Linked DNA regions of Homo sapiens. The protein of the gene in region 1 interacts with the protein of each later gene in a pairwise test. Each region holds a gene or a part of one and is shown in the gene's direction. Other genes may lie near its edges.

The links.
Region 2: the proteins of YAF2 (region 1) and SPANXN3 interact in binary tests that used the Homo sapiens proteins (3 or more experiments, as listed by UniProt).
Region 3: the proteins of YAF2 (region 1) and ANP32B interact in binary tests that used the Homo sapiens proteins (3 or more experiments, as listed by UniProt).
Region 4: the proteins of YAF2 (region 1) and TLK1 interact in binary tests that used the Homo sapiens proteins (3 or more experiments, as listed by UniProt).
Region 5: the proteins of YAF2 (region 1) and XAGE1A interact in binary tests that used the Homo sapiens proteins (3 or more experiments, as listed by UniProt).
Region 6: the proteins of YAF2 (region 1) and POLR3GL interact in binary tests that used the Homo sapiens proteins (3 or more experiments, as listed by UniProt).
Region 7: the proteins of YAF2 (region 1) and MARK1 interact in binary tests that used the Homo sapiens proteins (3 or more experiments, as listed by UniProt).

The regions. Positions count from the first base shown.
Region 1 is NC_000012.12:42,157,818-42,162,059, reverse strand, and holds part of YAF2 (YY1-associated factor 2), read left to right. Parts: intron 1-294; coding exon 295-447; intron 448-1,233; coding exon 1,234-1,471; 3' UTR 1,472-4,242. UniProt on the Homo sapiens protein: Binds to MYC and inhibits MYC-mediated transactivation. Also binds to MYCN and enhances MYCN-dependent transcriptional activation. Increases calpain 2-mediated proteolysis of YY1 in vitro.
Region 2 is NC_000023.11:143,508,009-143,511,871, reverse strand, and holds the end of SPANXN3 (sperm protein associated with the nucleus on the X chromosome N3), read left to right. Parts: intron 1-2,709; coding exon 2,710-3,057; 3' UTR 3,058-3,137; downstream 3,138-3,863.
Region 3 is NC_000009.12:97,981,610-97,986,419, forward strand, and holds the start of ANP32B (acidic leucine-rich nuclear phosphoprotein 32 family member B), read left to right. Parts: upstream 1-1,731; 5' UTR 1,732-1,946; coding exon 1,947-2,000; intron 2,001-3,826; exon of another isoform or gene 3,827-3,912; intron 3,913-4,810. UniProt on the Homo sapiens protein: Multifunctional protein that is involved in the regulation of many processes including cell proliferation, apoptosis, cell cycle progression or transcription.
Region 4 is NC_000002.12:171,150,730-171,154,971, reverse strand, and holds part of TLK1 (serine/threonine-protein kinase tousled-like 1), read left to right. Parts: intron 1-4,242. UniProt on the Homo sapiens protein: Rapidly and transiently inhibited by phosphorylation following the generation of DNA double-stranded breaks during S-phase. This is cell cycle checkpoint and ATM-pathway dependent and appears to regulate processes involved in chromatin assembly.
Region 5 is NC_000023.11:52,498,642-52,501,888, forward strand, and holds the end of XAGE1A (X antigen family member 1), read left to right. Parts: intron 1-2,060; coding exon 2,061-2,083; 3' UTR 2,084-2,171; downstream 2,172-3,247.
Region 6 is NC_000001.11:145,967,149-145,971,390, forward strand, and holds part of POLR3GL (DNA-directed RNA polymerase III subunit RPC7-like), read left to right. Parts: intron 1-4,242. UniProt on the Homo sapiens protein: DNA-dependent RNA polymerase catalyzes the transcription of DNA into RNA using the four ribonucleoside triphosphates as substrates. Specific peripheric component of RNA polymerase III which synthesizes small RNAs, such as 5S rRNA and tRNAs.
Region 7 is NC_000001.11:220,649,942-220,654,183, forward strand, and holds part of MARK1 (serine/threonine-protein kinase MARK1), read left to right. Parts: intron 1-678; coding exon 679-779; intron 780-2,044; coding exon 2,045-2,209; intron 2,210-3,156; coding exon of another isoform or gene 3,157-3,159; coding exon 3,160-3,411; intron 3,412-4,242. UniProt on the Homo sapiens protein: Serine/threonine-protein kinase. Involved in cell polarity and microtubule dynamics regulation. Phosphorylates DCX, MAP2 and MAP4. Phosphorylates the microtubule-associated protein MAPT/TAU.

The DNA.
Region 1 (4,242 bases):
TTGATATACATTTAAAATAATTTCTTATGTTGATTTACGTAACAGTATTCTAATGTTTGAGCATATATCTTAGACTATAAATTTTAATTGTTATAGTTTGTTCCATTTTTGTTGAACGGGAAAAACTGATACATATCTTTAAAATTGTATATTTAAATTACCTTACATATGAGGAATTTTTATACTTGAAAGTTATTGTTATTAACTTGTTTTCATAATGTGAGATATTCTGTCATAAAGCACTTATGTTTTAAGTTGTAATTTAAAATACCTTTCTTTTTAACATGCACACAGGAAACCTCGACCTGTCTCCCAGTTGGTTGCACAGCAGGTTACTCAGCAGTTTGTGCCTCCTACACAGTCAAAGAAAGAGAAAAAAGATAAAGTAGAAAAAGAAAAAAGTGAAAAGGAAACAACTAGCAAAAAGAATAGCCATAAGAAAACCAGGTAAATGTGAAGAGTGTTTTATGACATTTTTGAAATAATAAAACCATTTAATTTTTTTAACCTTGACATACTAATATACACAAAGTGGAAGTAAAATATTTGGTCTCCTTTATTATAAGGTATCAGGAAAGGTTTTACTGAGTTTGAAAGATACATAGGAAATTAAACACAGAAGCCAGAAATACAAGCTTAAATGTGATGATGCTTTTTTCTTTTTACGAGATTGGAAGACATTTGTGTCTGGATTTGTTTTGTTTTGTTTTGTTTTTCCCTTAAGAAGAGCTATTTGAACCAGGAGTGGTTTTCAACATACCGAACAGATAATTGCATGGGTTTTAACCTATCAAAATGGTCATGCGTTCAGTCATAACAATCATGATACCCTTATTAGTGTGTGTCAGTGGAGTAACAGTCTTCCTTGCATATAGCTCAACCTTAGCTTTTATCACCTTCCTCCATGGTGCAACTATTTCATTGTTGTCTAAAACATCTATTTTAATAAAATTAATAAGCTGTCTGCAAAATTATGATACAGCTATAGAAGCACAAGTTCTACTTCTAGGCTGTCACAGTTTTTTGGTTGCATTGAAGAATGTTCATGAATGATTGGTTTGATTAATGTTAATGAGTTGAAACATTTTATGATGTTTTTGTGGCTAGTTACACATAAATTGCCTTAAATACATGTATTCATTTTGTTACTTTTACCACTTTTATTATTTATTATATGCTCAGAAATTTGGTAGAGGGAAAAGCTAGTTTAAAATTTCATTTTTTTATGTTTAGGCCAAGATTGAAAAATGTGGATCGGAGTAGTGCTCAGCATTTGGAAGTTACTGTTGGAGATCTGACAGTCATTATTACAGACTTTAAGGAGAAAACAAAGTCACCGCCTGCATCTAGTGCTGCTTCTGCAGATCAACACAGTCAAAGCGGCTCTAGCTCTGATAACACAGAGAGAGGAATGTCCAGGTCATCTTCACCCAGAGGAGAAGCCTCATCATTGAATGGAGAATCTCATTAAAGTTTATTTTCTCCAATTTCTTAGTCACTTCTGTCCTACCATGCAAATACACAGATTATGCCAAGAGGTACCACATTTTCATGACAGATACATTCATGCACAATCCATAATTTGAGTTTTACATAAAATAGAAATTTGTTAGAATTTGTTAGATTTTATTGCAATGATGCCTACCAAACATTTCCAGACTTAACATTTTGGTCTCTGCAGTTAAGTGCCATGAAAATGTGGTTGAATTATTCATTATGCAGTGTTATTGGTAAGTGTATTTTCACTTTTAGTTTAGTGAATTCTAACACATAATTCTTGAATTCTCTACTATTGGCATGTAACGAATTTAAATTTTTTATAACATAGTGCAAGCTGCCTAAATATGTATTATTTGAGAATTGTGAAACAGATAGTTATATGTATACAAGTCAAAGAACAACTTAACTATTGCTGCAACAGGTTTTTCTTAATGGTTATCCTCTTAAATACACCTGCTGGTACTTGGTGTGGTTAAATAGGAAAATTGTTATTAAATAAAGAATTTGTATGAACCTTTGCCAATGTTTTTGACACGTTTTACTAATTATTGTTCCTGAATTATGTTTCTGGTTTTATCTATTTTTTGAGGTTTTTTTGTTTGCTTATTTTTCAAAACATTCATTTATTGTAATGTTTACTAGCGGACTAGTAAACAATAAAACATTGATTATTTAGCTTTATAATTCAGGTTTAGTGCTATTGTCATTGAACACTGGTATTTTCTGTATCATATAAAACATTAAAATTCAAATAATTATAAGCATTTGGCAAAAACAAGAGAAAAGAAACTTGCCATATTTTACAAGCTGCAATTTTAGAAAAGCTTTAACTTAATGATAGTTTTATCATTGTTTTCTTGTCCCAAACTTATCCAGGGCCATAGAAGTATGAATCTAATTAAAACAGAAATGGGAATTATTGCACAGAAATGGGAAATAACTAATTTTAAATCAGTCAAATTGGCTTCTTATTAAATACAATAATTCTTATGAAAATCATAGTACCCTATTTTCAGACACAGCTGCCAGTTTACACATTTCTCAGTATCCTGAAAGGAAAAAAGTATAGCCCCACTTATACTATGTAAAATTACCAATAAAATATTTTTATGACTACAGATTTTGCATTTTTGTTTACAACTATTTAAAGAGTTTTATGTTGTATTTAGAATTTCAACCTAGAAACCACACAGTACTTAAATTCTCCTGGGGTCTCCTGCTTTCTCTTAACCATTTGCTTAATATATATCTACCTAAAGGAGACTTCTGAATTGTAAATGAACTTAAAAATAGAATGTGGATGCAAAATATCACATAAGACATCATGATAACATTTGAAGAAAAAATAAAACTGTAGACCCTAACAGTTGTGATATTTGGTGGTTTCATGTGGTAATGTAATTTTCTGTTTAATTACAGTACTTTTTACAGGCACAGTGGTACTGTCTTTTTTGTAAGATGCTAGTTGTGAAATACAATTAATTGCATACAGTAAAAGTCTGTGATTAAAACATTTATATACCTCATTCTTTAGTGTTGTTAAATGAAAAATTAAAATTTGTGTTTATTATAAGATACTTTCAATGGAATACCAGCTAACCAGATATGTTCCTTTAAAACATGAATTTTTTTGTCTTATTCTGTTTTTAACATGTTTCAAATGTTTTATACATTTTTGGAGATAGTAAAAATTTAAAAATGTAATAGGGAAAATATTTAATTTTTAAGTCAAAAACTATGCTTTAAAGGAATTACATCTTATGATCAAATAACTTTCAGGATGTATTTTAAATGAGCTGCAAGAGAGAAAAATCTGACAGGAGATGGGATTTTACCTGAATGGAGCATACTCATATTTCTACATAGGTGGGAAGATACTCATCTTTCTACATAGACGGGAACACGGTGTAGCATGGAGATTAAGCGTGCTAACTGACACCTCATGTTTGAATCCTGTTGTAGAATGGAAATGAGCTTAAATTACCCAAGCTTACTTTCCATCTATAAAACAGGGCTAATAATGGTAATCACATCTAATTTATAGGGTTTTTGGGAGGATTAAGTCAATCCGTGTAAAATTCTTAATTATCTGACACATACTGGTCACTCAGTAAATGTGAGCTTTTACCATTGTTATAGGTAAAATCCCATTACAAAAATACAAAAATATTTTTTGTAACAGTTATTTTCCTGCCCTCTTGGATGACCTAAAGTAATAGTGTTTTATAGATTTCACTAAATTTTCAGTGTAATATCAGATGTTTTCTCTGGATGCAGAAAGACCATCTTTCCATAATTAAAGAACCTGGTGGGTGTGCACTATGAGATTGGAGAAATGAATTAAGTTGACTTGAAATTATTTTACTTTTATTAATCACAGGTATCTCAACCTGCCTTTGTTTCACCCTACTTCAAGTACACTTCCACACCAGGAAAACAGACCCAAATTCCATAAACAGAACTGACGTTAAAATATGCGAAAGATTCAGAACCTAGGTTTAGGGTACATGTTTTTCTCTGTTTCATGAACTTACAGTGTGGTTTGAGCACTGGGTTCTTTTAGCCAAATTCCATACAAAAAGAATTTGGATGTTTTCCAGCATTTATTACCTTACTTTGCTATAAGTAAGAGTGAAGATAGGCCGGGTGTGATGGCTCATGCCAGTAATCCCAGCACTTTGGGCTGAAGCAGGCAGATATTTTGAGCCCAGGACCAGCCTGGGCAACATGGTGAAAGCTCAT
Region 2 (3,863 bases), on another chromosome or scaffold:
GGGGTGGTGGACTCTAGGCCCCACCTGTCTTCAGGTACAGGTGGTGAAGCTAGATGAAGAGTTTCACTGAGCACAGTCTGACTTCCAGTGTTGCTTGATATCACAGATGGGGCAAGGCTTCCAGAGTGTCACGGGATTAGGCCAGGCTTTTGCTCAGTGTCCCTGTTGGATGCACTTATAACAGGCTCCTGGAGTTGACTGTTGCCAAGTTGAGGAATTCTGTATGCCTTGGGAACCCTGTTGAGTGGCAGCTATCAGCATTTGATATTTAGCCTGGCCCTTTTTTAGGTTTGGGTTTTTTAGTTCTTCCTCTCTAATCTTATAGACCTTAAAGGCCACTTTGATTAAGTCTCTTTGGAGGTTTGAGGGCCATCCTCCACTTTTTAAAGTTTTTTTTCAAATGTCTGGGGCTGACTGGGAGATAAAGTGTAAATGGAGGTAGATTTTGCCCTTAATGGTATTAGGGCTTAAGGTGGCATATTTAGTTGTGACCTTTGAAAAGGCGGGAGAGGAAAAGAGCAGGGGCGACTTTATTTATGCCAGCTAGAAGGCATGATATCATATGGCCTGGTTTCTGCCTGTCTACAGAAGTTGCCTGATAATTCCGATTGAGGTCAGTTCTGGGGACAGCTAGGGTCCCTACTGGGTTATGAGCAGCATCTTGTTGGTGGAGGGTGTTCTCATGGACCTGGGCACCCGTAAATATGTGTTCCCTGTCCTCCAGGGTGAGGGTAGAGGAGAGGATGACATATATGTCATGCCAGGTAAGGTCATAAGATTTAGGGAAGTACAGACATTCCTTGAGGAAGGAGGTAGGATCCATTGAAAAGGAGCAAAGTCTCTTTTCAGTATGGGAGAAGTCAGCTAGGGAACTTGAATTCAGATTATGCCTTCAGTCCTTGCAACCTCCTGCAAGGGAAAGACTTTGGAAGGCCTTTGGGCATGTGTCTGGTTTTCGGCAAAAGAGCGTTGGGCGTGAGACCTGGTTTGAGGTGGAGAAGGAAGGGGGATGGAGGGTGACAGTAAGGGGGTGGAGGAGCCGGATCCGAAGGAGAAGGTGGAGGGAATGGGAGAGGGCAGGAGCCAGACGAAGGGGTTTGTTGGCCAGGTTGAAATTCAGAGGAGGAAGGCTTGTCCCGAGGAGGAGGCATTTTGGGGGGTTTCTCCTTGAGGAGGAAGATTTGAAAAGGTGAACAAGATTGGCAGGAGAGTGAGTGAGGCATGAGCGGAGATAAGCAAAGCACTTCAGATCATTTACCATTGTGTTGGAGAAAGATTTTTAGATGATGTTGAATTTGAAAGTTGAATGTTTTGTTTTTTAGAAGAGGGGAGTGAATACTCTGGATGGGAGTGAATACTCTGGGGAAAGTGAGTACCCCAGAAGGGAGTGAATACCCCAGAGGGGAGTGAGTTCTCCAGAGGGAAGTGAATACCCCAGAGGAAAGTGAGTACTGGATTCCACCTGGGAGAAGGGACCTGGAGAGTTGGGACAGCCCCATAGCTATTCATGCTCCCCAGAGGACGGAGCGGCCAGAATGGCAAGTGTTCTGAGGCTGTCCCCTGAGAAGGGAGGCTGCAGTCACCTGGTGACTGGGGAGACCTCTCACCCAGCACTGGAATTTTTTTGGAGAACAAGCAGAAATAGAAAGGAATCCAGAAAGGAAGAATAGGGAGACTCACCCACGAATTGAAGCCCAGTGTTGGATGTGATGTCCAGCAATGGGGGTGATCCTGGTTGCAGCTGCTTGGGAAGGGGAAGGAAGGAAAAATAAGATGGAGAGTTTGATCAATATCTGGAGGTTAGTCCAGGGCTGGAGAAGATGAGAGAATAGGGGAAACAGGACTGGGAACAGACAGTCCACTCAGGATCTGGAAGTAGGCCCCGGTCTAGTTTGTGCTGCTTGCTGCTTTCTGCTTTCCAGGTTGCAAGAGAAAACTTACCCATTAGAACCCAATCACCGTCCTGGGTTTTGGCACCAAAGTGTTAGGTTTTGAAGGGAAGATGAGGGTGAAAGAAAGACAGACAGAGAGGGTGCATCTCAAACAACAACACAGGAATATTGCAGACACCTGTGGAAGTGGGGGACCAGCTTAATGCCAGAGCCCACTGCCGCTTATAGCCTGGGGTACTTACAGGTATGGGTGGGAGGGAGCTGGGCAGTATGGCTTGCTGCCCAGGAGGATATTGATAAGATGTTCTTATGATCAGGTGGTTTGGCCCTTTTTCCAGTGGAATATCATTGTGGTGTTCCTTTGCAGCTGCCTGGAAAGGGGAATGAAGGAAAAATAAGATGGAGAGTTTAATCAATATCTGGAGGTTAGCCCAGGGCTGGAGAAGATGAAAGAATAAGGGGAACAGGACTTATGATAGGGATGTTTCTTTAGTTGAGCCTTTGTCCACCTTGTGGTCAGGTGGTTAGGCAGGATGTTGCTCATGGCCTGAACCCCCATGGAATGTTTCACTTTGACCAAGGTCTGCAACATAGCAAAAACTTACAAAATCATGCAGTTTGGACTAACAGGTGACTCTACCCATGCTCCTCTTCTTCTTCTGCATAGATACCTACCCTATGATTTCACCTTGTTCTTCTCTGGCACACACCCCTTCCTCCACCTGCATTCCTTCTCATAAAGCCCCCCTTGCTATCTAGTCTCTATCCTATTCACCCAAAATAATGTCTTTCTGGCCTCTCCCTATTTTCTTACCAGATGCAAGAGGTACCAAACAGAGTCTTAGCCCCCGAACAGAGTTTGAAGAACACAAAAACATCAGAATATCCAATAATATTTGTGTATTACCTCAGGAAGGGTAAGAAAATAAATTCAAATCAACTGGAGAATGAACAGTCCCAAGAGAACTCCATCAATCCAATCCAAAAGGAGGAGGACGAAGGCGTAGACTTATCTGAAGGATCTTCAAATGAGGATGAAGACCTAGGCCCATGTGAAGGACCTTCAAAGGAGGACAAAGATCTAGACTCATCTGAAGGATCCTCACAGGAGGATGAAGACCTAGGCTTATCTGAAGGATCTTCACAGGACAGTGGGGAGGATTAGTCACACATGGAGAAACCAAATTGGACAAATCATCACCACTGATGGCGATGATTACAATAAAATCAAGTTTAAGGAGCTGATGACTGTGTTTATCTCTGCCTGTTGTCTGGTGTGGGGTGGGGAAGGGAAGGGAAGAGGTAGGCATTTGAGAAGGGAGGGATATGAGGTCCTGTAGGTTGGGAGACGGACCCACAGGTTGACAGTTAGCCAGACATTGCAAATAAGGACTGGCGGAGGACTGATTCCTCAGACAAATTTTCTTCTTAAAATTTTGTCTTACAGGAGAGGAAGAAAAGGACATGGTGTTTCTTGGAGCATGTGATTGTGTAGAAGGGTGTACAAAAAGATCTGTATTCGCTGGGCATGGTGGCTCATGCCTCTAATCCCAGCACTTTGGGAGGCTGAGACTGGCAGTCACCTGAGGTCAGGAGTTTGAGACCAGCATGGGCCAACATGGTGAACCCCTGTCTCTACTAAAAAATATATAAAAATTAGCCAGGCATGGTGTCAGGCACCTGTAATCCCAGCTACTTGAAGGCCAAGGCAGGAGAATCGCTTGAACCCAGGAGGTGGAAGTTGCAGTGAGCCGAGATCACGCCACTGCACTCCAGCCTGGGGGATAGAGCAAGGCTCTGTTTCCAAAATAACAAAAATTAAATAAAATAAAACAAAATAAAATGACCTGGATTGTATTTAGGTGACAGTGACACTCTTTCCAAAATGAAGACATCAAAATCACCACCTCCAGGCCACATACATCATAGTGGCATGGGTTATGACTCATCCAATGCTGTGAGCAACTGAAG
Region 3 (4,810 bases), on another chromosome or scaffold:
CCAACCTACAGCACCAAAGTAGCCCCCCACCATGCTATGACTCCACTCTAGCCAGACTGATGATGTAGCACAAGATGGTGGGCTGTGGAGTCAGACCTATCTGGGTGTAAATCCTAGCTCTGCTTCTTGCTGGACGTGCAGCTTAAGATTCCTGAGCTCCTCATCTGTAAAATGATTAAATTATCACCTACTTCAGAAAGTTGTCTGAGAATTAGAGAAATAATATCAAGCCCCTTAAAGCAGATCCTCAATAATCGCTTGTTGGCTCATGAAACCGATTTTTTGTTTTGTTTTGTTTTGTTTGGTAAAAGCCCTCATTGCATAGCCCTGTGGTTCTCATAACCTTAGTTACAGACCTTTTGTAACCCTGAGAACATCTGTCTCCATTTTCCCTTGTCATAAAGACGTCTGCTGAGACTACAAACGGAGTCAGGGAACTACTACCAGAAAGTTTTTCTTTTCCCATATTCCTTCTAAAACTTTCATCTTCAAATGTTAACTCACTCAGTATTTTAAAAGCTGATATATAATTGGTTTACAACTAAATTTGGGTTGTTTGCCACTAAAACTTAGGTAAAATAGGAAAGGGGGCACTTTCTTAACTTCCATAAAACTTCATGTTAATACATAGAATTTCAAGTTTTTCTTTAACAAATTGTTCTTAGTTTTTGGTGCTTCTTGTCAGTACGATCTTCTTAGATTGTATTTGATTTGACACATTATGTATTTACTTATTGTACGCTGAATATAACGTCATTCCCCGGTGTTCTGCAAAGCACAACACTCATCCCGATCTGGTGCTCTAACCCCTGGGACCCTTTGGGCCAGACCATGACAAAGGCTGCCTGCCAGGTTTCAGCGAAACTTAGACCACCAAGAATTTACACACTTCACAGGGGTGCCCTAAGGAATAAATGAGATTAAAAAAAAAAGTCTGCGGGGAAACCCTGAGGCCCTATTAGAAATGCTAATCGTTTCCTTCTCTAGCTCCTATTAAAATGTTAGAAAACCGAGGGAGACTCTCCTGAACAGGGTGGGGATGCTCGGCTGCTCTGTGGCTTAGCAAGCGACCCCAGCTGCCCTGCCAGGGCCGGTCGGCCGCGATTCCGTCCCGACGGGGGGGATCCTCGGCGGCACTACGGACGCCAGTCTGCCAAGGAGGCAGCGGGGTTCGGCCTGTTGGCCCCAGACTGTGTGGCAGGCAAAAGGTGAACGTCAAAGCCTGTCCCCGGCTTCTTCACATCTCGCGCCTCCGCGGGCGTCGGGCCGCCCCCGTGAGCCTCCCCGGATGGACTGGGTTTTAGGGACCCCCGCAGCCGGACTGCAAAGCTTCCCACCAACCCTTCCCGCGAACCTCCCAGCCCGGGCCGCAAGCCCAGCTCCGGGCGCGACGACGTGGGGCCGGAGGTAGAAGGAGTCTCAGCGCGGCGGGGGCCGGGGGGCGGGGAAGCCCCCCCACCCACGAGAAAGGTCTTACATCAGCCGCCCCACGTGCAATCGGAGAGAGGGAGGAAGTCGCTCCTCTATTCGGGCTGCGCCTTTCCCCAGCCTCCGCCCCGCCCGCCGCGAGTCTCCCCGCCCCGCCTTGGTGCAGCCGCGGCCGCCGAGCCGAGCAGCGCCGCGCGGGGCCGAGTGGAGCCGAGCAGCTGCCGCGCCGCGTCGCCGGTTTAAGCGCAGTGCAGGCCGCGGCCGGGGGCGGCGGTAGTGAGCCCAGCGCTGCGCTCCAGCCCCCTTTTCCCTCCATGGTTTCTCTCCGCTCCCGTGAGTAACTTGGCTCCGGGGGCTCCGCTCGCCTGCCCGCACGCCGCCCGCCACCCAGGACCGCGCCGCCGGCCTCCGCCGCTAGCAAACCCTTCCGACGGCCCTCGCTGCGCAAGCCGGGACGCCTCTCCCCCCTCCGCCCCCGCCGCGGAAAGTTAAGTTTGAAGAGGGGGGAAGAGGGGAACATGGACATGAAGAGGAGGATCCACCTGGAGCTGAGGAACCGGACCCCGGCAGCTGTAAGCAGAGACCCCTCTGGGTGCCCTCTCCCCCGATGACTTGCATGTAATGGTGGCCACCTGCGGGGCCCGGGCTGAGGGTTCGCCGGCCCCGGCGCGGGGAAGAGCGCAGCTCGTGGGCTCGGACGGGGAAGGCGGGCGGGCGCGGAGGGGGGAGCGAGCGCGCGAGGATTAACTCTTTGCCGCCCGCGGGCCCCTGGGGCGGCCGGGGGGAGGCAGCGGTGTGGGGGAAAGCAAACTTTGAGCGCTTCGCCCGCCGGGGTCTTTCCCCTGAGGGAGCGCGTGTGCAAGTGGCCGGCGGCGAGAGAGGGAGGCGGGGGTTGTGTAACGCTGGGAGCCATGTTTGCAGCCTCCCGGGATGCGCGGCCGGGCGGAGGCCCGGCCTGCCGAGGAGCTGCGCGGCCATCCCCGCCTGGGCCAGGCCGGGCTCCGCGCGCCCCGGGCCGGCCGGGGAAGGGGCGCGGGTGGGGCGGGACGGGGGCTCTTGTGGCCGGAGCTCGCCGTGGGCGCCGGCCCGGCCGAGGTCAGCAGTCGTGGGGCGAGGAGGGGGCTTTTTTCTTTTGAAGGGAGCGAGAAGCCCCCTCGGGCGCCTGGAGGCCTGGGCGGGCGCGGCCCGGCGCGCGGAGCGGGGGAGGGGCGGGCCAGGGCGGCGGAGGTGGCGCAACCGCCGCCCCTCCCGAGGCCAAGTTTGAAAAAAGGACGTGGTTCCCGCCATTTTTCAAGCCCAAAAATAAAACTTTCTCCCCCGTTCTCTCGCTCCCTCTTCGCCCTCGGCCTTGCCCACTCCTGCCTCCCAGGGGCAGCCCGGGTCGACCAAGGCCAACCGTTGTGGCGACGGCCTCGCCCTTCCCCCTGTGCCGCGGCGGCGGCGCCCGGGGCCCCTGCCCTTGCCCCGGGAGGCTGGCCCCTCCGTGTGGGCGGGCGGCGGCTCTTCACGCCAGCCGGGGCGCGCCACAGGCCGCCGCAGCGCCATGTTGGCGGGTGCCCGTCTCCCTGCGCCTGGTGAGCCGGCCCACGAGCTTGGCCTTGCCCGCCCGCCCTCGGCGCTGGCTGGCGGCCGCCTCTTCCCGCGCCGAGCCCTCGGTCTGTTTCCCCCCGCCCCGCCGGGGCTTGGCTCCCACTGGCGGGAGCCGCGCGCCGCGGCCGCCGCCGACTCATCCCGTCGCGGGCGCGCTGCCGACCCCCTCCCCCTTCTTAAAAGGGCAACGGCAGGCGGCCGCCCCCGCCCCGCGCCGGGCGCGCGGGATTTTGGGCGGGCTTCGGCTCGGCTCGTGGGCCGGGCGGCCTCTGGCCTCCCACGTGCTTGAGAGCGGCCTGGTGCGGTCGGCCGCGCGCCTTGCGGGCTGTAGGGGCCTGAGGGCGGCCCTCTTGCGGCGCGGCTGCGTGGGCGTGGGTCCGACCTGTGGGAATTGCCCCATTCGTCTCCCGGGTTTAGCGCGGCTGCCCGCCGTCGCGAGCCCCCCCCCCGCCGCGGACCGGCGCGGGCCAGTTAGCGCCGCGGCCGGGTGCCCCAGCGGGCCAGTGGCTTTCCCGCGGAGGGCGGCCCCGCGGGGCCTCCCGACCCGCTCTGGGCTAAGCGAGCGGCCAGGTTTCGTGCCCTCAGGTGGCTGTGGTTAACAAGTCGCGAACTTGTGGGAATTCGTCGACCAGGGTTTACCTGGTGTGCTCGACATTTTAAATCCTTGCTCTCTAGTCTTTGAGGTCACCACTAACGCGGGGCGGGCCGGGCTCCACCGCACGGCGCTGTCCTTCCCGGAGGGCCCGCGAGGGTGGGCCGCTCCGGGGGTTGCGAGATGGAGGGTCGCGGGCGTGCGTTCTTCCGACCTTCCGTCAGACATTTTGTGCCCGCCACGTGCTAGCCTATCGCCCAGCTCGCGCCTCAAAACTTGAGAGGCTTTCTTGGCTTGAGAAGGTGTTTATTCCAGACTTTTCCATTGCGGCGTAATTGCAAATCCGTAGAATATGGAGTAGCTAAAATTAGCCAAAGTGCCCGCAAGAGAAGTACACACGTGGGTCTTCAGAAATGCGTTAAAATCTAGAATTTGAATTCTTTAGGATATGCTCAAACTAAAGGTCTTTTAAAATTCTCAAGAGTAGTGTTCCCTCTGGGAAACACAGTTGGTCTGCTGTTCCCCTTAGAGGATGTTTTCATATATGAAGTAATATTGCTTTAAAAACACATGTATATCTACAGGTGTTCATTTTTCTTTTTTCTGTTTTTCTTTTTTTTTTGAGACTGAGTCTCTCTCTTGCCCAGGCTGGAGTGCAATGGCACTATCTCGGCTCACCTCAGCCTCCGCTTACCGGGTTCAAGCGATTCTCCTGCCTCAACCTCCCGCGTAGCTGGGATTACAGGCATGCGCCACCATGCTCGGCTAATTTTGTATTTTTAGTAGAGGCGGGGTTTCTCCCTGTTGTTCAGGCTGGTCTCCAACTCCTGACCTCGGGTGATCCACCCGCCTCGGCCTCCCAAAGTGCTGGGATTACAGGCGTGAGCCACCGCCCCCGGCCACCAGTTCATTTTTCAAGTAATCAGCTTAACCTTCTTGCCAGTCAGGCCAGAGCCATTTAATTCAGTTAAATTAAAACATTTTCTCTGTAATACTATCCACATTTCAAGTGCTCAGACGTGACAAGTGGCTCGTGGGTGCTGCGTTAGGCAGCACTGGCCTGCAGAATCCACTGGTTTATTAAGTAAACATTTTAAGCCTGAGAAACCATTGAGGTGGTGTGGTGCTTTTTGCACTTGGGAGAGTTGATGAGGCCTTGAGAGAGTGTTGTGGGAGCCAGCTAAGATTGTGGGGGTAGAG
Region 4 (4,242 bases), on another chromosome or scaffold:
ATTTTGCATGGCACATAATCTCTTCTGTGAGTTGGATTTTTAGGTGGTGGGAATTTAAGCATAAATTCTCATAACTTTCTTGGGGTCAATTTAATATTAATAAGTGTAGTAAGTAATAATACCCAGCTTGAGACCTCATGTACTTGTTGCATTTGGATTTAAAGCTCATTTCCTATAGAAGAGCTGTAGAAATCAGTCATGTAGTTTCATAAACTCCTTCATGCTTGTTAATAATTTTCAAGAATCTTAAAATAAATTACAGGAATATTGTTATGAAGTAGTAGAAGCAGTATGGTATAGGGGAGAAAGTGATTGTAGTTGGGATCTGAGGATAGTCTTTACTTTGCTATTAACTAGCTGTGTGACCTTGGGCAAGTTGCTTATCTCTGCTTCAGTTCCATAAACTAAGAATTACAGAGCTGAACCGGATCTTGGAAGCAATCTAGTACAAACCTCTCATTTTACAGATGAGGAAGCAGATAATTTGCACAGGCTTTCACTGTAAGACAGTTGGGCCCAAAATTCAGTTTTCTGACTCTCAGGTTGGTTTTTTTTTTCCATTATACTTTACAGCCTCTTTTCATCTGTAAAATGAGAGCATTGGATTAGAGGCTCTCAAAGGTCTCTTCCAGCTCAAAAATATTGTCATTCCTGTGACATTAGTCGTAATATAATTTATTAGGGGAAAGTTTGTAGCTTTTATTTATTGGTGAAAGAAATGTTTCTTGAAGAGGCAGTATAACCTTTGCAAGGTTATATTTTGTTTTTTTAAGAGAATATCATCAGGCGAGGTGCTATGTCTCAGGCCTGTAATCCCAGCTTTGGGAGACCAAGGCAAGAGGATTGCTTGAGTCCAGGAGTTTGAGACTAGCCTGATCCTGTCTCAAAAAAAAAAAAAAGTTAGCTGGGTATGGTGGCATATGTCGGTAGTCCTAGCTACTGGGGAGGCTGAGGTGGGAGGATCCCACCTTGATCCCAGCAGTTCAAGACTGCAGTTGATGCAGTGAGCTATGATCATGCCACTGCACTCCAGCCTGGGCAACACAGTGACACCCTGTCTCAAAAAAGAAAAAAGAAAACATCTTCATTAATACCAAAGGGTATTTAAGTTTATGAGCATGGTAAGTAGTGTGATAGGTAGTCTTGTTTTTTGTAAAACACTTATTAATATATTAATAATATAAATTGCGTAAATAACAGTGTGATACCCGGAAGTGAAGTAAGTAGGTGATTGTTCCTCAGAAAATATTGCTGGAGTTTATTTTATCTGGGACCCCTGTGTCTGCCCCTAGTTAAGTGCCTGTGTTGTTTAGTGTCTCACAGGATTGTCTGTTTCCATAGCATCTGCATCATGCTACTTTTATTATAGTTTTATTTATATTGTCTACTAGACAGAAAGGTCTTGAATTCAGAGACTATATTTTGTTCATTTTCGTATTTTCAGTGCACAGGAGGACATCCTCTACAGAGTTGGCACTCAACTAAAAGTTTTGTCAAAGGACTGTTTCACATACATCATCTCTCTATATATCATGGTATGCACATATTTCAGACCCAGGAAGATGCTTATTTTAGTAATTCTTAAGTGAACTATATTTTAGAGGGTGATATGGATAACAGTAACAGTAATAGCTAAAGTTTATTGTGTTCGCACATGTTAATTCTTATATCTCATAACTCTGAGTTACATACAGTTGTTATTCCCATCTTCAGATGAGAAAACTGAAGCACAGAGAAGTAAAGTGACTTACCAGTGTGACCTAGAGTAGTACATGATGGGGATTTGAACCAAGTTGGTGTATTTTAATCACTAGGATATATTGCCTAAAATATGAAAATTTGGTTTTTAGTATTTTAGTAGTTTTTCCTAAGCAGATTTTAACTTACTAATCAGACTTCCAGGCTTATTCATTTTACTTCTAAACTTTTGTTAACTTTTTTTTGCATGAGTTTTTATACACGTGTGAAGATAAGATTTAAAAAAATACAAAAACCCCAACCAAACAACCCAATTTAGAAAGCTGTACCAGCTGTGCAAATCCTACACTTCATTTTTTTAAGATAAGTTTTGTCCATTCATGGAAAATGTTAGAGATACATCAATGAAAAATTTTATTTCCATGTTAGATAATCTAATTTGTAATTCCATTTATCTTGATATTTTGGCCTCATAAACCCACTGGAGCCATAACAAGTAAATACTAGAATTTGAACAAAAAACTTCCCACTGTCAGTATCGGAGCAGTCTATTTATTGTGGAGGCTTTATAACCTGATGGACAAGGCTTTAAACTAAATTATAATGCTTTAGTGGCAGATCTTTGACTCTGTTAATAGTATTCAGTATGGGCAAGGGGAAGAGGATGTGCAGTCTAGCTAATCTGTAAAAAAGTATTTTAAAAAAATACTTAGTTTTAATTCTTTTATTGCTAACAACAACAACAACAACAACAATAACAAAACCTTTGGTAGCATGTATTATATAGCAAACCTAATTGAGAGGCAGGATTTGAATGGATTGATAGGAATTTATCAGTCATGGAGTGGAAAGATATGCAGAGCAGAGCAGATCCAGGTGGTAGGTTGTCAAACTTGAATTAAATTTTTCCAATGTGGCTTCATCATTAGGTCTGAAATTTAATGAATTTCAAGAAGGCAATTTAACCTGTATTTAAATAAAAGTGATTATATTCTACATAGATTCATTAGCCAAATATAAGTATTTTGGGGGGATGACTTAAAATATTTTTTCCTCTTCATCTATGTGGATTGTTAAGAATTGGTTATACTCATAAATTTGTGCTTTTCCTTGAAAACTAATTAGCTGGAGTAAATAAACTACTAGGTTTAAATTCTTGCTGTTAATATGATAAGTTGTGTGACTTCATGATTCCCCACTGGACACTTAGGTAAGTGCTTCCTATCTGAGGATGAATGTAGTTCCTCTGGTGAAGGTCAGAGGGGTTTGTGTGAGGCTAATCATACTCATCCTGTCTCCTAAGACCAGAGACATGTTTTACTTTTTTCCTTTTTTGATACTGTATATTTGCCTCATAAAAAATATAAAATTTCCCTTTTCCTTGCCGATTTCTTTTAAACATCTGTGTAAATATGTAGTTTAGTTCAACTTTGTATACTACTCTGTTACTTATTTCATTTACTTAAAGATACTTATTTCATTTACTTAAAGATACACATGGCTGGGCGCGGTGGCTCACGCCTGTAATCCCAGCACTTTGGGAGGCTGAGGCGGGCGGATCACGAGGTCAGGAGATCGAGACCATCCTGGCTAACACGGTGAAACCCTGTCTCTACTAAAAATACAAAAAAATTAGCTGGGCGTGGTGGTGGGCGCCTGTAGTCCCAGCTACTCGGGAGGCTGAGGCGGGAGAATGGTGTGAACCTGGGAGGCAGAGCTTGCAGTGAGCTGAGATGGCGCCACTGCACTCCAGCCTGGGCGACAGAGCAAGACTCCGTCTCAAAAAAAAAAAAAAAAAAAAAAGATACACATATTTATTAATGCTGGACACTATTCCCGGCATTTGTAAATAGTAATTCATTTGCTTCTCCTAACAATCACATGAAGTCCTGTTATTATCCCGACTTTATAGATGAGGAAATTGAGGCATAGAGAAGTTAAGTAATGTATCCAAGGGCCAGGCACAGTGGCTCATGCCTGTAATCCCGGCATTTAGGGAGGCTGAGGTGGGCAGATGGCTTGAGCGCAGGAGTTCGAGACCAGCCTGGACAACATGGTGAAACCCTGTCTCTACAAAAATATACAAAAATTAGCCGGGCATTGTGGTGCACGCCTGTAGTTGCAGCTAGTTGGGAGGCTGAGGTGGATCGCCTGAGCCCAGGAGGTTGAGGCTGCAGTGAGCCGTGATTACGCCACTACACTCCAGCCAGGGCAACAGAGTGAGGCCTTGTCTAAAAAAAAAAAAGGAATGTACCCAGGCACACATAGAGAATATTTAGCAGAGCCAGGATTCAGACTGGGCTGAGTACATGCTCTTAACAGTTACACTATTCTGTCAATGTTATTTCCTTGAATGGATGCACTATAATTGGTTAACTACTCTTCTTTAGGTAGGATGTTAGTCATGAATCCTTTGGTTACACGTAATAACAACACGACTTTGTTAAGTTAAAAAATGAGTGTATTGGTTCACATACTGGGTATTGTATGTGGAGGGTGATGGAATGGCTTTGGAAACAGCTAGATCCAAGGTTGCAAGTAATG
Region 5 (3,247 bases), on another chromosome or scaffold:
ATGATTTGTTTATCATAACAATCAGCTTCAGTCCAATTATAGTGTCTGAGTTGAGATTTCATGGTTCCTAGGAAAATGAGCGGGCACTCTGCTTGGTGTTTGTTTTCCTGTGTGGAGCCCTGTATGAGTGTTCTTGTATTTTGCCAAATTCTGAGTTCTCTGTCTCTTAAAGAATAATTGCATTTTAAAGCCTTCCCGCAGTGAAGCCTTGAATGACTGAATGATAAAATGGCAGGAGATCATCAGGTTTCTGTGGCCAGTGAAGTAGAGAGAATGCATGTAGGTCAGTGATGCCCAAGGTGGGTGTAAGATGCTTCTGCTAAGCATGCTCCCTGCCCTCCCGTCAGTCTTCATGAACTACTTCGTGTAATTAGATTGAAGACTCATATAGTAGAGTCACCTCTAACCATACCATAGGTTACATATTACAGGTTTCTGCCTTGAGGCATTAGATGATAGGGTTTGAAGTTCAACAACAGCACTGTGCTAGTTCCTGAGTAGTTGACACAAGTATGTTTTACACATATTTTCCAAATTGGTGACTGTTAATTACAATACCTCTTGAAGTTAAAGGAAGCACCCCATGTTTAAGGGAGAAATTACCTAAGTGTTTTTACTGTACCCTGCTGAACCATTCCATTATACTATTTACATTAAAAGATAGTTCTCAGACGATTTCCAGGAGCCCACTGAACAAGCCTCAGTTGTATTCTTAGGGAGATCATAGCTTTAAATGCACGTCTTATTAAAATAAATAGCACGTTACATGTTAAAGGAAAAGAATACTATGAAATAACAATAAAAGAGCCAGAGAATAAACTTAAAGGAAAAAGAAAGTGGTAGTGAATAAAAGACAGGTACGAATCATTAGTATAAGGAAAAGTAGTTCAAATGTCATAAATTGAAAAGATTGGTGTTTTGAAAATTAGCTACGAATATTCAGTAATTTACACAATCTTGAAGAAACGGAAAAAGCACAACATGGAATATGAACAAGACAGAGTGATTTAATACAGGGCTTTATTGAAAGTGAATACAGTCTTGAACGCTAAGATTTTCAGAGCATGGATGAAATGGTTGGTAAGCTAGGAAGGCATGCATTATTTATTTCTGTAATACCTGATTAAGCATCACAAAGCCTGTGGAAGAAACTGTGAAATTTTCCAGTTGTCCCTCAGAAACATTTACTTTTAGAAACAAATTTTGGCTTTTTCAGCTGTCCTACTCTTGTTTTCCATTCCCGTATCCCTCCATGTGTTCATGTGTGACACAGTTCATAATGCTATCACATATTGATGACAAAACTGATAGTGATAGCTTAAGAGTAATGCGACCATATACTTAATTATACAAATGGGAATACTTTCAAGTGTAAAAAGAGGCATGATTCATGTTGACATCACGGTAGGAGAAAACTGGGTACAAACGGTTGCTGTACCTTAAAAACCACAGAAGGGTAAACGAGCCCAAATAAATATTTTTGCCCTTCTGCGCAATAGAGTAAAAACAAATGCAATGCTGGCCTTTCTATTCACTTTACTTATTCAGTTCCTAAGGTGACAGTAACCGTTTTCTTCCAAGATAGTATTCAGACCATTTCCAGGAGCCCGTTTGGCATGCAGACCACAGATTCAAGCCAGAATATTAAAAGAGTGTTTGCCAAAAATTATACATTTTTCGTAAATTCCTTTTTTGTTTCTTAGGATTTTTGTGTGGTGCTGGTATTTTGAGTAAAACTATGCACAATGTTTGCTTTCTACTTTAAACCCCTTTTTAGTAGGTTCACTTCATTTAATGTGTTCGGACCTTGGACTGTCTTGCTTTCCTTGTAGCACTAGAAAGCAGGGTGTGTTTGAAAAACATCTTTAATGCATACACTTGGACGACTGTTGTCAAAGTCTCTTCAGAGGTCTACATGAATATAAGCAAAAGGGTGACTCTTAGGCTTCTGGTTTTGTCCATTGTAGAAAACTAAAACTTTGGTGTCTTTTCCATATCCTTAATGTCATTTAAACACAGTTCTGCTAGTAATGTTCCCACCTGTTATGCTTCTGTTATAGGTGAAGAGCAACCACAAGTTTAAATGAAGACAAGCTGAAACAACGCAAGCTGGTTTTATATTAGATATTTGACTTAAACTATCTCAATAAAGTTTTGCAGCTTTCACCAAAGAAGTCTTGCTCATCTTTGGTTCACTTCCTTCCCAGGTATTTGATAATATTGGAAATTGTTTCTGGCTGCGGTTGTCCACGCCTGTAATCCCAGCACTTTGGGATGCTGAGGCAGGAGGATTGCTTGAGCTCAGTAGTTTGAGACCAGATGGGGCAACAAAGCAAGACTCTCTCTCTACAAAAATAAAAGAGTGAATGCATGAATGTATGCAAGTTTGTATGTAGCTATAGCCCCAGCTACTCTAGAGCCGAAGGGTGGAGGATGCCTCCAGCCCAGGAGGTCCAGGATGAGGTTAATTTTTTTTTGAGATAGAGACTCTATTTTTTTTTTTTTTTTTAAAATTCAGTATCATTTTTGAAATTTTGTGTTCTGATTGAGCTGGTATGCACAGGTGTGATATTGTGTAATACATATTTGGTCCTAGACCCTGCTTCCTGGCATACAACTACTACAATTTTTAAAATCTCCACAAAGTGGTGTCTTTTTATATGCTAGTGAGTTGACTCATGGCTGGCAGCACCTAGGTAGCTCTAGTTTGGGGAATAGGAGGGTTGGGGCTTTCAGCTGCCCCTCCCCCCCCCCCAGCATTCGGGAAGAGGCAGAAGGTTAATTTGATCCCCAGTGGCAGGACAACAGTTTAATCAGTCACGCCTACAGAATGAAAACCTCCATCAAAACCAAAAGGACAGGATTCAGACGGCTTCTGGCTAGCTGAACATATGGAGGGCAGCATGCCCCTAGTGGGCACAGAAGCTCCCTACCCCTTTCCCCATACCTTGCGCTATGTCTCTCCTCATCTGCTTCCTTTCTTAGGGTATCCCATTTGCCACAAAACATGTGAGAAGTCCCTAGGCTATAGAGCTGGATGAAAGAATTAGGGCCTAGGTAGGAGTAAGCGGCAAGGAACCAGGGCAACTTGCTGAAGCAAGATGACGGGTCCTACCTACACCGTCTCTTTAGAGGCTATGTCATGAAGTAGCCATGGGTTTCCATCTTGCCTCTCACACAGTGCTCTTGATATGGTGGTCAAGATACTTACACCCTTTGGGACTGTTTTTCCATTTCTAAAGTTGAA
Region 6 (4,242 bases), on another chromosome or scaffold:
TGAAGAGTGGTTTTATTGGCCATTCTCTCTCCTTTTTTTTTTTTTTGAGACAGTCTTGCTCTGTTGCCCAAGCTGGAGTGCAGTGGTGAGATCTCAGCTCACTGCAACCTCCACCTCCTGTGTTCAAGTGAGTCTCATGCCTCAGCCTCCTGAGTAGCTGGAATTAAAGGTGTGTACCACTGTGCCTGGCTAATTTTTTGTATTTTTAGTAGAGACAGGGTTTCTCTATGTTGCCCAGGCTGGTCATGAACTCCTGGCCTCAAGTGATCTGTCCACCTCGGCCTCCCAAAACCCTGGATTACAGGAGTGAGCCACCATGTCCAGACATGGCCATTCTCTTTGCCAGTTGCCTGTTCATGTCCTTTGCCCATTTTTTCTATTGAGATGATTTTTTAAAATTTGGATTTCCAAGATTTTAAGGGTGTTAATTTCTTGCTTTATTTATTACATGTATAGCAAATTCTACACATCAGCGTGCCCCAGGCCTCAGTGCCTGGATTTCTTATTTTCTCTGTCCACATCCACTCCTTTAGGGGTCTCACCTAGTCTCATGGCTTGAAGTATTGTTTGTTTGCTGATGCCTCCACTGGAATGAAAGCTCCATTTAAACCCCGTGGGTGCAGCATGTTTTTGTCTGTTTTGCACACTGCTATATCCATAGAATCTAGAACAGTGCCTGGCACACCTAGTAAGCACTCAGTAAATATTTGTTGAGTGAAATGATTCTATTATTGTTATTTTTATTCCCATTTTACAGATGAGGAAACAGGTTTAGAGACAATAAATAAATTACCAGAGTTTTGTAGCTAGGAAATTGAACTGGGATTCAAAACCATATTCTTAACCTCTACATGTACTGCCTTCCTTAAATTTGATGTAATTGTTAGTGTTTTTCTGTATGTTTAGTTGAAACCTGCCTCTCAGTAACTTCCACCACAATATATATGTATGAATAATTGGGAATGAGCATAGTGTATATGAGTGTTGTTTGGAGTAAAACAGAGTACAGGGGTAAACTCTCTGGAAAGGTTGATGTTAAGGAGGAGCAGATTGTGACTAGATTATGGGAGACCTTAAGTATCCTCAAGAATTTTAACTCCATCACAATCTTTAATAGCAGAGACTCCCTATAGATTCCTAAGATGAATGGGGCAGATGGATGGTTTATTTCCCAACCTGTATTAAATAAAATTTTGTCTTCTTTTTCCCCTGCATTCTTAGAGGATCACTCATTTAATGTGTAGAAATGGTGTGGAATTTGTCTAACCTCAAACTCATGGCCATTTATTGACTCTTCATTGCTTTGCAGTCACAGCAGCTCCTATCTCCACTGCCAGAACTATATCTGTCAAGTGGAAAGATACTTAACCAGCTGGTTAGAATGTTCTCTCGCTTAAAAGGGGCTGAAGACACGGTGACAAATTCTTTTTTTTTTTTTTTTGAGACAGAGTCTCGCTCTGTTGCCCAGGCTGGAGTGCAGTGGCACAATCTTGGCTCACTGCAACCTCTGCCTCCTGATTTCAAGTTATTCTCCTGCCTCGGCCTCCTGAGTAGCTGGGATTACAGGCGTGCACCACCACGCCTGGCTAATTTTTTGTATTTTTAGTAGAGACGGGGTTTCACTTTGTTGGTCAGGCTGGTCTTGAACTCCTGACCTCGTGATCCGCCCACCTCAGCCTCCTAAAGTGCTGGGATTACAAGCATGAGCCACCACGCCCAGCCAACAAATTCTTATTATTTCTCTAGTCTCCATGAGACATCTTCTCTCCCTTAATATGCTCTTTTCAAACAGATTGCAATTTGATATCTTAACCAACAGCCATTGTTTCCTCAATTTTTTTTATGGCAGTTGGGCTTGAAACTTCCCAGATTCCTCAGATATACATTTTTCTACCCTCTCCTAGCTACAGATTATTAATCTCATTTAGTATTCTGTTACGACATTTAAATTTTATTTATCTATTTATTGAGACACGGTCTCACTCTGTTGCCCAGACTGGTGCACAGTGGTGTGATCATAGCTCACTGCAGCCTCGACTGCCTGGGCCCAAGTGATCCTTCTGCCCTGGCCTCCCAAAGTGCTGAAATTACCTCCATGAACCACCACAACTGGCCCATTAAAAAAAAATTTTTTTGAGACACAGTCTCGCTCTTTTGCCAGTCTGGAGTGCAGTGGCGCCATCTCGGCTCACTGCAACCTCCACCTCCCGGGTTCAAGCGATTCTCCTGCCTCAGCTTCCTGAGTAGCTGGGACTACAGGCGCACACCACCATGCCCAGCTAATTTTTGTATTTTAGTAGAGACGGGGTTTTGCCATGTTGACCAGGATGTTCTCGATCCCTTGACCTTGTGATCCACCTGCCTCGGCCTCCCAAAGTGTTGGGATTACAGGCATGAGCCACCATGCCCAGCCAAAAATTTTTAAATTAATATTTTAATGTTGTTATAGTATTCTATTCAGTATAGAAAAAAACAAAGCATACATAACCTGGCTGGGCATGGTGGCTCATGCCTGTAATCCCAGCACTTTGGGAGGCTGAGGCAGGCAGATCACGAGGTCAGGAGTTTGAGACCAGCCTGGCCAACATGGGAAAACCCCCTCTCTACTAAAAATACAAAAATTAGCTAAGCATGGTGGTGGGTGCCTGTAATCCCAGCCACTCAGGAGGCTGAGGCAGGAGAATTGCTTGAACCCGTAAGGTGGAGGCTGCGGTGAGCCGAGATTGCACCACTGCACCACTCCAGCCTGGGTGACAGAGCAAGACTCTGTCTCAAAAAAAAAAAAAAAAAGATACACAACTCTCCCCACCAGAAAAAATTCAAAAAACCCTCATCCTTCAAATTAACCGTTGTTAATTTTTGGTACATATCCTTCTATAACAGATTTTTAATTCATATGTGTGTATGTATTTCTGACAGAAGATTACCTTCTACATATTATTTTTAAATATTTTTTTCACCAACTAATCTCTTGGGAATTTTGAATTGCTACTTGATTTTTGTTTTAGCTTTTTGTTTTGAGACAAGGTCTCTGTCACCCAGGGTGAGTGCAGTGACATGATCATGGCTCACTGAATCCTCTTATCTCCCGGGCTGAAGCGATCCTTCCACCTCAGTCTCCCACGTAGCTGGGACTACTGGCATGTGCCACCATGCCTGGCTAATTTTTTTATTTTTTGTAGAGATGGAATCTCACTATGTTGCCCCGGCTGGTCTCAAACTCCTGGACTTAAGTAGTCATCCCACCCCAGCCTCCCAGAGTGCTGGGATTACAGGTGTGAACCACCACGCCCAGCCTCGAGTTTTTTTTGTTTTTTGTTTTTGTTTTAATTAATAGATTATATATTTTAGAACAATTTAAGACTTACGGAAAAATTTAGCAGATAGTGCCAAGAGTTCCCATTTGTCCCAGTGCACAGTTTCCCCTATTAACATTGTAGATTGGCCGGCCGCGGTGACTCACGCCTGTAATCCCAGCACTTTGGGAGGCTGAGGCGGGTGGATCACGAGGTCAGGAGTTCGAGACCAACCTGGCCAAGATGGTGAAACCCCGTCTCTACTAAAAATACAAAAACAAATTAGCCGGGCACGGTGGCGGGCTCCTGTAATCCCAACTACTCGGGAGGCTGAGGCAGGAGAATCGCTTGAACCCGGGAGGCGGAGGTTGCAGTGAGCCGAGATCGCGCCATTGCACTCCAGCCGGGCAACAAGAGCGAAACTCCATCTCAAAAAAAAAAAAAAAAAAAAAAAAAAAAATGCCGGGCGCAGTGGCTCATGCCTGTAATCTAGCACTTTGGGAGGCCGAGGCGGATGGATCACCTGGTCGGGAGGTGGAGACCAGCCTGACCAACATGGAGAAACCCCCTCTGTACTAAAAAAAGTATAAAATTAGCCAGGCGTGGTGGCGCATGCCTGTAATCCCAGGTACTCAGCAGGCTGAGGCAGGAGAATCGCTTGAACCTGGGAGGCGGAAGTTGCAGTGAGCCGAGATCGCGCCATTGCACTCCAGCCGGGCAACAAGAGCGAAACTCCATCTCAAAAAAAAAAAAAAAAAAAAAATTGATTCGTATATTTGTTACAATTAATGAATGAATACTGATACATTATTATTAACTAAGGTTGATACTTGATTGACATTTCTTTGGTTTTTACCTATTGCTCTTTTTCTGTACATGAATCCCATTTAGGATTCCACATTATATTTAGTTGTCACGTCTCCTTAGGCTCCTCTTAAGTGTGACG
Region 7 (4,242 bases), on another chromosome or scaffold:
GTCAAAGGTTGTGTGCATGGTAAGGAGAATTACCTGCCTATCCCTTTTTGCTTATTTTCTCTCTTCTCTCCAAGGCTCCTCAGACTTGGCCTGCCTTCTAGCTCAAACCTGAGACTCGAGGAAATATCTTCAGGGTGGCACTGCACACACCACTGTTGGTGGCCTCAGCTGGACATGCCTTTGATCCTGGGGCATTTAGTCTGCTTAATATTCCTGGTGGTTGAGAGAGTTTCCCAAGCAGGTGAAGAAAGGCAGCCCACTGGCTTCTGAGTGGGCATGCCATCTTCACTGCCCGAGGCTCCTGTTGGTGATGATACTTAGTGTGGAGTTGGCTTGCACTCCTTGTTACTTAGAGCTGCTCACACCCCTGCTCCTGCCCTTTCTCTACCACCAGCTCACAAAGGAGGGAGTGAATAGAAACCCAGCTCTCCTATTGCTTCCAAACTGCTGGCTGCTATTATAGGAGGATAAGCTAAAACTGTAATGAGTTCATTTTTGATGCTTTGTCTTTTACTTCTGAAATCTAAATTAGAGAGAGGCAGGGGATAATCTTGTTAATATAAGATTCTGATCAATTAAAATTCTGTGGATTTTTCTCAAAGTCAGCTTAAATACATTTCTTTGGCTTTCCACAAATATATTTATAATTTTTTAATTGCCTTTTTTTTATTCTTGAAGAACAATGTGTATTCTGGAGGTAGCATGGCAAGAAGGAATACATATGTCTGTGAAAGGACCACAGATCGATACGTAGCATTGCAGAATGGAAAAGACAGCAGGTAAATGCCACAGTGCCAAGTAGTAATACCTTTGCTGTTGTTCTGTGTTAGTGCCCTTGCTGAAATGCCTGCAGCCGAATGGGTCAGGAGAAAAGCAGTTATTACATGAAATAGTAAGATTGCAACCAACCGTTCTTAGTAAGACATCTTTCCTGTACCAGGATAGAAGGATGGGAAAACATTTAGAGAAAACAAGAAACAAATCTCTTTACCTGCCAATTTCTGAGTAAAATCTGATAGTAAATATTTTTCTATAACAAAGCAGATCATACCATCCTAATTTCATCTTCATAATTTGAATCTTATTCTCTTATGCACCTGCTGCCTCCTTCCCTTTCACTTCCCATCAAGTCATTGCTGTATCTCAATAAAGGCTTTATTTTTCTCCCTCTGAAAAAAATGTGACCATCTTATTTCTCATCATTCAGAACCACATAATTTTTAAAGTGTTTTATTTCAAATAATAATAAATCATATTATTTTTATTACTTAAAAGATGTGTCTTCTTTCTATCATGAGTCACAAGGACTACTCATCAATATAGTACAAAGACATGGAGCCTATTCTAATGAAATTATTTTCTTAGTACCACCTTCAGTCATTTCAGTAGTGTGTACAACCCATTCTCACATTTGTTTCTTCTCACTTAATAAGAATGTAAAGTAAGTGCTATTGTAAGGCATACAAAGAAAAATGTATCTTCTTTGGACATAAGATAATTGGAAATTGATTTCAGACTTATGATTTTTCCTATACTAAATTTTAATCTGCAGCTCCTTTAATCTGCAACAGTTAACCTATTGACTCATAATATGATCTAAAAGTGTTTTGATGAATCTAGAGATAATATTTTTGGTATAATTATCAATTCTGATTGTATGAATAATGGACAATGAACTACAGCAACATATCACACCAAACTGTGACTTTGGGGAAGTAAAAAATGACTCCAGTCATAATAATTTTATCTGAAACTATCGTATATCCACAAAAATAATTTTGTACTTTCTCACATTTACATACATAGTGTGTGTGAGATTTTTTTCATAGATGATAGTGATAAATTCACCCTGTATACTTTTCATAAGAATATTAATTGTTTTGTTAGTCATTAATAATGCCACTAATGTTAGTTTCTTTCAAATGTTTCAGTCATGAAAGGTGTTAGTCAGTTTAGATTTTTTAAAATATAGTTCTTAAATTTTAGTAAACCACAAATTTTCCTCTTTTTTTCCATGGTCTTCTCAACTGCTTTATGGTGAAAGCCTTACGGAGATGTCTGTGAGTAGCATATCTTCTGCAGGCTCTTCTGTGGCCTCTGCTGTCCCCTCAGCACGACCCCGCCACCAGAAGTCCATGTCCACTTCTGGTCATCCTATTAAAGTCACACTGCCAACCATTAAAGACGGCTCTGAAGCTTACCGGCCTGGGTAATGTGTTGGTTACATCTCATTTTGTTCATTAAGAGTTTCTAAAAATATAGCACCATGTGAAAATACATGATAGTCACCATCACATTAAGACCTTTCTAATAAGATTCAGTGTTTGTTATGGAGGAAAAATTGAATTGTAACATAAACTTTCTATGTACTTTGGCTGTTATTGGAAATGTTGCATATAACTTAAATCATTTTCTAGAGGAATTTTTTTAAGGATTTGATTTTACATCCGTCTATAAAGTTAAAAATTGCTGTTTAATTTGTCATTTAGGTAAATTGATTTTTTTATTATTTAAACCATACGAACAAACACTAGACTGTGAGTTGAGACCCGCAGATAATGATCAGGCTCAATTCCTTGTTCTTAATAAAACCAGGCTTCAGTTTTCCTGTCAATGAAACTGATGAACTCAAAGAGCCTGTTCAGATATAAAATTGTATAATTGTTTTTCTAGTATTTTTCTATTTTAAGATTTCCCAAATTCAGTACATCTGAACATTTTAACCCTCTGTTAGATTTGTTAGGCATATTGGTGGTGCCATGTGGTATTGTAGCATCACTGAGGCCTAAATTAGAAATAGGAAATTATTTTATTCAAAGCCTTTTTAATAAACAATAAAATTTGTGTTCAACATTGCTAAGTGGTTTCAGGAGAATATTAAAAAAATATTTGCAGTACTCCTGGTTTGGCATTCCTGATACTGAAAAGTATTTATCTTTGTGTCCCTGTTTCAGTCATTTCTTGATTTTTAGTGACCAAACAAAAGGTACCTAATTTCAAACTGAAATTTTACTCCAAACCCATGTCTCACATCTCTAATGTGAACAAATAAAGTAGGGCCAAAAGAAGTAGCCATAGCTATTTGTTTCAAGTTTTTAGCTTGAGTGAAAGGTTTTCTTGTCATTATTCTGAATGATATATCTTAATTTGTCCCAGCAGTACAACCCAGAGAGTGCCTGCTGCTTCCCCATCTGCTCACAGTATTAGTACTGCGACTCCAGACCGGACCCGTTTTCCCCGAGGGAGCTCAAGCCGAAGCACTTTCCATGGTGAACAGCTCCGGGAGCGACGCAGCGTTGCTTATAATGGGCCACCTGCTTCACCATCCCATGAAACGGGTGCATTTGCACATGCCAGAAGGGGAACGTCAACTGGTATAATAAGCAAAATCACATCCAAATTTGTTCGCAGGTCAGTACCAATGTACTGTCGTGTTTTGATTCCTCTAGAAATTATAAAGGAAACTAGACTTTTTAAAAAAATCTTTATAATAATTTTCTAAAATGGTTTCATAACATTTCATTAGAGCTGCTCTTTTACAGAGTTGGAAGAAAAAAATCTAGGAAGACATAAAGTATTTTTCCTTAAGAGAGAGAAAGGAAAAAATGGACAAAATGAGATTTTAAAAATCTGTAAAATAAAATGGAAAGAACAAAGACTTAACTTCAAAAATGTGTGTTTTAACAAAAGATTATTTTATATTTAAAAGCCTTGATTGAGGAAAAGAAATGAGTTTACATGTTTCCTTCAAATTTATCTTGACAATACTTTTAAATTGCTTACTAATAATATATAATTTACATTTTTTTCTTCTTGCATAAAAAGCCTACACACCAGAGTCACAGATCACTTATGCAATTTTACATCATAAAACCTTATCATCAAAACATAGTAAACACAAAATGAATACATGTATAGTAAAGGTCTAATCTACTTAAACAATACAATTATACTTTCTAAAAAGTAAGCATACTTACTATGCTTACTATGCATACGTGTACAGTGCACATTGATGATACAAGTTGCTACTACAATGCAGGCTGATGTGGATTTCATCTATTCCTGGTCCCACTAAATGCCTACTTAAGCCCTGCGACAGACAAAGCACTGTGTTAGGTGCAGAACAGAATCTAAAGATAGGTAAGATGGCATCTGTGCCCTCCAGATTCTTATAGTCTTGTAAGAAGCAGACAAACAACTAGCCATGATATAAAGCAGAACATGTGCTAAAAAGTGTGGGCA